Linked DNA regions of Homo sapiens: region 2 is linked to region 1. Evidence: fine-mapped expression QTL. A gene starts in region 1. The other region holds a variant in brackets. All regions are shown on one strand. Distances are between the middles of the regions.

Region 1 (2,893 bases):
AGGCGTGCGCCACCACGCCTGGCTAATTTTTTTTGTATTTTTAGTAGAGACGGGCTTTCTCCATGTGGGTCAGGCTGGTCTCGAACCCCTGACCTCAGGTGATCCGAGGCCCACCTCGGCCTCCCAAAATGCTGGGATTACGGGCGTGAGCCACTGATGGCGCCTCTTTCTATCCAGGGGCCCAGACCCCCTCCCAGCCTCGGGGCTGAAGATCTCCAGGCCTCTCAAAGGCCCCCAGGCCCAGCTGGCCCCACCCCTTTCCTTCCGAGCGTCGGGGCGGCCTGGAGCTGCAGAGACCCCTTCCTTCTCTGCAGTGTCTGAGGGCTGCCTCTCCAAGGCAGGCTCCTACATCTTGGATTTGAGAACTCCGGGGTGTCACAAACAGCTAATTCCTGTCATTTACCTTGGAAAAGGAGGAACCGCCTTACGGGGTGAGGCGGTGGCTGCAGGTCTCAAAAGGGTGTTGAACCACATCCACGCTCACGTTCCCGAGAGCCCCCACCCCCAGCATTCATGGGGGTCTCCACCTGTGCTGGACGGCGCAGAAGCAGGGCTGGGCAATCCAGGGAGGCTTCCTGGTGGAGGCAGGGTCCCAGAACCCCTCGGTGCCCACAGGGGAAACTGAGGCTCAGAAAGACATAGGACAGTCTCCCAAGAGCTCTGCGAGGGGCTCCTCCTCAACTCCCTCCGGGACCTGGATCTGTCTGGTGTGACGGATGAAGGTGGCTCTGAGAGACCGGGCCCTGGGTGCCCGCGGGGGCGGCTGACACTGTCCCGAGGAGGCGCCAGCACCCTCTCGTCTCCCCACCAGCTCCTCCTGGTGCCCCTCCCAAGCCCCGGGGAACTTCCCAGGTTGGCCTGAGGGGGGTCCTGGAGAGCTGCAAGCAAGGGGGAGGGGAGCCCACAGGCCTGCAGCCCATGGTGAGTTTCACACCTGAAGCCAGCCAGGTGGGGTGTGCTGAGCCGAGGGGTCCCTGTCCCCATTCTGTGGGGTTCCCCAGCACGGGGCTCCATGGTTGAGGCTCTCTGGGGGTGGCCAGAATTTGTGGAGACCTCTCGGGGACTCGCAGATACCACCCGGAGGCAGTGGGATGGAGGAGTGATTGGCTGACCCCCGCCCTCCAAGGGGCCCCCATGGGACAAGGTGCTATAAACGCCGCCCCCTGCACTGGGGACACCAATGTGGCCGCAGACTTTGCATAGAAAACCTTTCTGATCCCCGCCAGCCTGGTTTCCCCGCCCCTGCCGGCGACCTGCGGGGGACCGGGCTGTGTCCGCAGTGTCTACACCCCCTCCTCACACGCACTTCACCTGGGTCGGGATTCTCAGGTCATGAACGGTCCCAGCCACCTCCGGGCAGGGCGGGTGAGGACGGGGACGGGGCGTGTCCAACTGGCTGTGGGCTCTTGAAACCCGAGCATGGCACAGCACGGGGCGATGGGCGCGTTTCGGGCCCTGTGCGGCCTGGCGCTGCTGTGCGCGCTCAGCCTGGGTCAGCGCCCCACCGGGGGTCCCGGGTGCGGCCCTGGGCGCCTCCTGCTTGGGACGGGAACGGACGCGCGCTGCTGCCGGGTTCACACGACGCGCTGCTGCCGCGATTACCCGGGTAAGTAAACCGCGTTTACTTAACGCGGACCGGCCAAGGCGTCCCGCGGAAGCCGGGATGGGTGGGCGCCCCCCTTCCCGTGCTCAGACCGGCGTTGCTGAGGTCTAAGGAGGGTGGGCACAGAGCCGCCAGCAGCGGGAGCCTTCCGGAGGGAGGCAGGATCCCAGAGGGAGGCGGAGGTGTGCCAGCTCCAGCCAGTGGCCCCGGCCGGGAGCAGGGGTGAGCCAGGTGGGAGCGCCCTCAAGAGGGGTCTGGGGTCTGGAGGTGGAGGACGGCTGTTCCAGGTCCTGCTGGGCGGGTCGTGAGCCCTTGGCCATCGCCCAGCCCCCTCCTGCCCAGTTGAGGGCCCCCCTGCACCACCGTCTGGCCTGCTGCCTGCCTCTGACCTGCACCTGGGGATGAGGGTTCAGCTGACACGGCTGGTCTGGAGAGGAAGCTGGCAGGGAAGTCACCCCAGAGCTTCTTCCTCCAGGGCCTGTGGGTTGGGAAGGGAGGCTCTGTCCGGAGGCCCAGTGTGGCTGGTGGTGGGGACAGCAGCGCCCAGACACCAGGCAGGCGGCCTCTGAGGTGTCGACGGGCCTCCAGGGGACTGTGCACTGTTGGGGGCCACCCCTGGGTCCTGCAGGGGCAGCTCCTGGTTGCATATGGAGTTAGCACCTGGGCAGGGGCAGCTGTGGGGCGCAAAGGGGGAGTAGCCAGGCCACATGGCCCCAGGAGAAAGAGACAGCTGGATAAACCCAGGGTCCAGACTCCCAGCCAGGAGCCCTCTGCTCCCTGGAGCCAACTGTGGGTGGAGAACGGACAACCTCACTCCCCTGGAGGGCCGAGGGGAGGCCTGGGGAGGAGGGGGCCTCAGCCCAGCTGCTGGGGGGCTGGCCTGTCTCCTGCCCAGGCGAGGAGTGCTGTTCCGAGTGGGACTGCATGTGTGTCCAGCCTGAATTCCACTGCGGAGACCCTTGCTGCACGACCTGCCGGCACCACCCTTGTCCCCCAGGCCAGGGGGTACAGTCCCAGGGTAAGTCCTGGAGGTGCCTCTGGGAGTCCACACAGGCCAGGGGTTCCACTAGGGCCCGAGGCAGAGCTCGTGGGCACAGGTGTCCGGCGAGGACATGTGGTGTGTGGGGTCCGGAGTCCTGTGAGGCCGGGCAGGCCAGGCCATGCTCAGGCACCACAGGCCATGAAGCTCTGGGGGTGTCCTGTCCCTGCTTTCTCAGCCTGGGCTTCTCCATCCAGCACGAGGGCTGTGAGAACCCTGCGGGGAGGTGGGGGCGGGTTCCAGGAGCTGTC
Region 2 (2,893 bases), 30 kb before region 1:
GGCCACCTGTGTTTACTCTGGAGGATGCAGCTGAGGAGGTCCTGGCAGGGCCACACTCGTAACCCCTGGCTTCTCAGCTGTGGGCGCGGTCTTGCACCCTGGCTAGCTGAGTTGAGGGGACTTTGCGGCATCTGTGGCCCCGACCAGGGCAGAGTACCCGAGCCCCAGCCCAAGGAGAGGCCTCGCTGGGCAACGCGACCAGGACAGAGGCCGAGGCTGGATGGGTGGGGAGCGCCTGGGGCCTTCCAGATCCTCCTTCCTGCCCCTCCCGCCTCCACCTCCCTTCAGCCCCTTGGCTGCAGCCAGCTCTCCTGGGATCACTCATCCACTGTCTACCTCCACTGGGAACCTCGGTGAGGGAGGCTCAGATCCTTGGGGAGGGAGGAGGGGGTGGGCCCCAGAGAGACCTTCCGAGGAGGACAGGGTGGGGCCAGATCTTGGTTCTTCTCCTCGGGTGGTTCTGACCTGGCCAGCGTGGTGCAGTGTGGCCATCAGGGCAGGGCTAGCGGCACCAGCATCTAGCAGGGAGGGTGCGGAGGGCAGGGAGGCCAGAGAAGGAGGGGCTGTGAGTGCTGGGGGTGGGGACCCACCCTGGCCCTGAGGGAAAGGAGTGTGTACACCCACAGAGGCCAACTTGATGGGGTGGCCTGGGTTTCAGCTCCCAAGGCTGTGGGAAGGTCCTCTGGGTGGGGGCTGGGAGGAGACCTCAAGGGGAGGCCCAGGGGTTTGGGCTGTGCCCCCTCAAAAGCCTCCTCTTTGAGGACCCCAGAGATTGGCCAGGCCTGTGGGATGGACACAGAGGTCTTTCCCCTCAGCCCACAGTGGGAGAGGGAGACGCCAGCTCACCTCAGAGTAGGAAACCAGGAAAAAGCGCCAAGCCCTTCCCAGGCCCCTGAAACCAGGGAGCAGGCCCCACACAGCCAGTCCAAGGAGCTGGAAACTTCTGACAGGCTGCTGTGGGCCCAGGAAGCAGGGCCTTGCGCGAACAAGGGGCCTCCTCTCTCCTCCCGGCCCCGCTCTGGGTGCGGAGGGCCTGGCACGCACCTGTCTCTGGCCACCTGCTCCCGAGGACTCCCCAAGCCGTCTGGGCCGCTGGGGCTTCCATTCCTGCAACGTCAGCTGGTCTCACAGTGCCACAGCTGGGGAGCCTGGGGCCGGTGGGGCCACAGGAGGGCCGTGACCCCCTTAGACCTGAGGACTCTGAGCTGGGACAGTCAGCCAGGGAGAGGGTGGAAGAGTCTGGGGTGACCCAGGCCGCGGGGGCAGCCCTGCTGCAGGCTGGACTGATGGAGGCCTGCCGGGAACAGGG[T/C]GTGTGCTGAGCCCTGCGGGGAGGAGATCTGGGCCCAGTCAGTGCTGGGCGTCTGTGATGCCACAAGGTTGCAGGAGCCCCTGCCTGCGTCTGCACCGAAGAGCGCCGGGCACAGGGAACTGGGCTGGCATCCTGGGGCTGCTGGACGGGGCGTCTTCCCTCGCAGCCCTGGAGGCCACGCTCCTGACTCTGGGTAGAGCCCTTCCTTGCCTGGTGGGGTGGGGGTGGAGGGTCCTCAATCCTTGGCCTGCAGAGGCATCGCCTGGGTGTCAGTCTCTAGCCACACAGTGGCTTTTTCCCAGGTCTTTTCTGGTAAGGACACCAGTTCCGTGGGAGTAAGGCCACCTCAGGACCTTGCCTTAACGCAATTCCACCTGCAGAGACCCGACTTCCAGACAAGGTCAGTTTGTAGCTGCTGGGTTAGGGCTTGGAATATCTTTTAGGGGGCACAGTTCAGTCCCGTAACAGGAGCCTTGACAGCCAGGATCCCAGCCAGACACAGGTGGGCAGGTGGGAACCTGGAGGCCTCAGGGGCGGGGGTGCCTCCGGATGCAGGTAGCACTTTGCATCTTGGGGGTGACCAACCAGGCCACAGGCCCGGCGGGTACCCAGGGCTGGCCCAGAGAGCTGGAGCCAACGTCAGGTGCCTGCATGCCAGCCTCAGGGGGCAGAGAGGCAGGACCATAGTCCCCAGGAAGAGGGCAGAAGGGGGTGCTCTCCTCCTGGGGGATCCTGAAGGGACCAGAGCCCATCCTCTTGGCTTGACCTGCATTCCCTGCCGGCCCTGTGCCTCCTGGGGGCTGTGTGCGTGTGGCTGCGCCGTGCCCGTCCAGCCCTGACACTGTCCCCTCCATGGTAGGTTCTCGGGGCCACTAGAGGAGAAACATCCGTGTGGCTGAGGAAGAGTTGGCTGTTTTGTATCCCAAGTTCCCACATGGAAATGAATTCGGTGACCCCCCATCTCCCGAGGGCCTCCTGGTTTGGCCCTGGTCTCCGGGAACCGAGTACCTGGGTGGGTGGGGAGCTGTACAAGCTAAGACCAGGGAAGGACGCCTGGGGGACGGATGCCACGGCCCGTGCACGGTCGATTGGAGCCGCAGGGCAGGGAGGATCTACAGGGCAAGTTCCAGGTGAGACCAGAGAGAGCTGCAGCTGCCCCGGCTCTGGAAGCCCCCAGCCCTCCCGAGGCCCAGCCTTCAGCCCACGTATCCTCTGAACCCGTTCACCACGGTACGGCTGGGGAGGGTCAGCCTGGGGCAGGCTTTGTTCTGATATGAAATTTAATGTCTTAGGCTGAAAAACACTAAATTTCCATTTTTTTGTAGGTCAGAAGTGGTTGCAAACTGGATTTTTAGACTCTTCCTGTTGGGGGTCTCGGACATTTGCTCTTTTCCACAGCGGCCAATTCTTCAGAGCCACAAAGAACTGGGCGACGCAGGCCAGAGGTGTGGGAGTCCAGCCCTTGGTTCGAATCCCGCTCTCCACTGTCCATGGGGTTCTCAGCAAGCCCTCTGGCCTCTCCAAGCACACGCAGGGTTCCTCAAGCAATTCCAAACTCCAGAGAAGACATCCCAGGTAAAATCG

Evidence for each region.
Region 2: its variant is fine-mapped to the expression of TNFRSF18 in whole blood (TOPMed, PIP above 0.99).

The regions. Positions count from the first base shown.
Region 1 is chr1:1,205,098-1,207,990 of GRCh38, reverse strand. It overlaps TNFRSF18 (TNF receptor superfamily member 18), which reads left to right and starts at 1,399. Exons shown (of 5, transcript NM_004195.3): 1 at 1,399-1,606; 2 at 2,499-2,621. The coding sequence starts at 1,420. RefSeq lists a silencer at 2,616-2,816.
Region 2 is chr1:1,234,720-1,237,612 of GRCh38, reverse strand. It overlaps B3GALT6 (beta-1,3-galactosyltransferase 6), which reads right to left. Exons shown (of 1, transcript NM_080605.4): 1 at 2,572-2,893. Among named protein-coding and RNA genes, the nearest start is that of B3GALT6, 3.9 kb to the right of the region's middle. The variant T/C (reference allele first, on the strand shown) is at 1,310.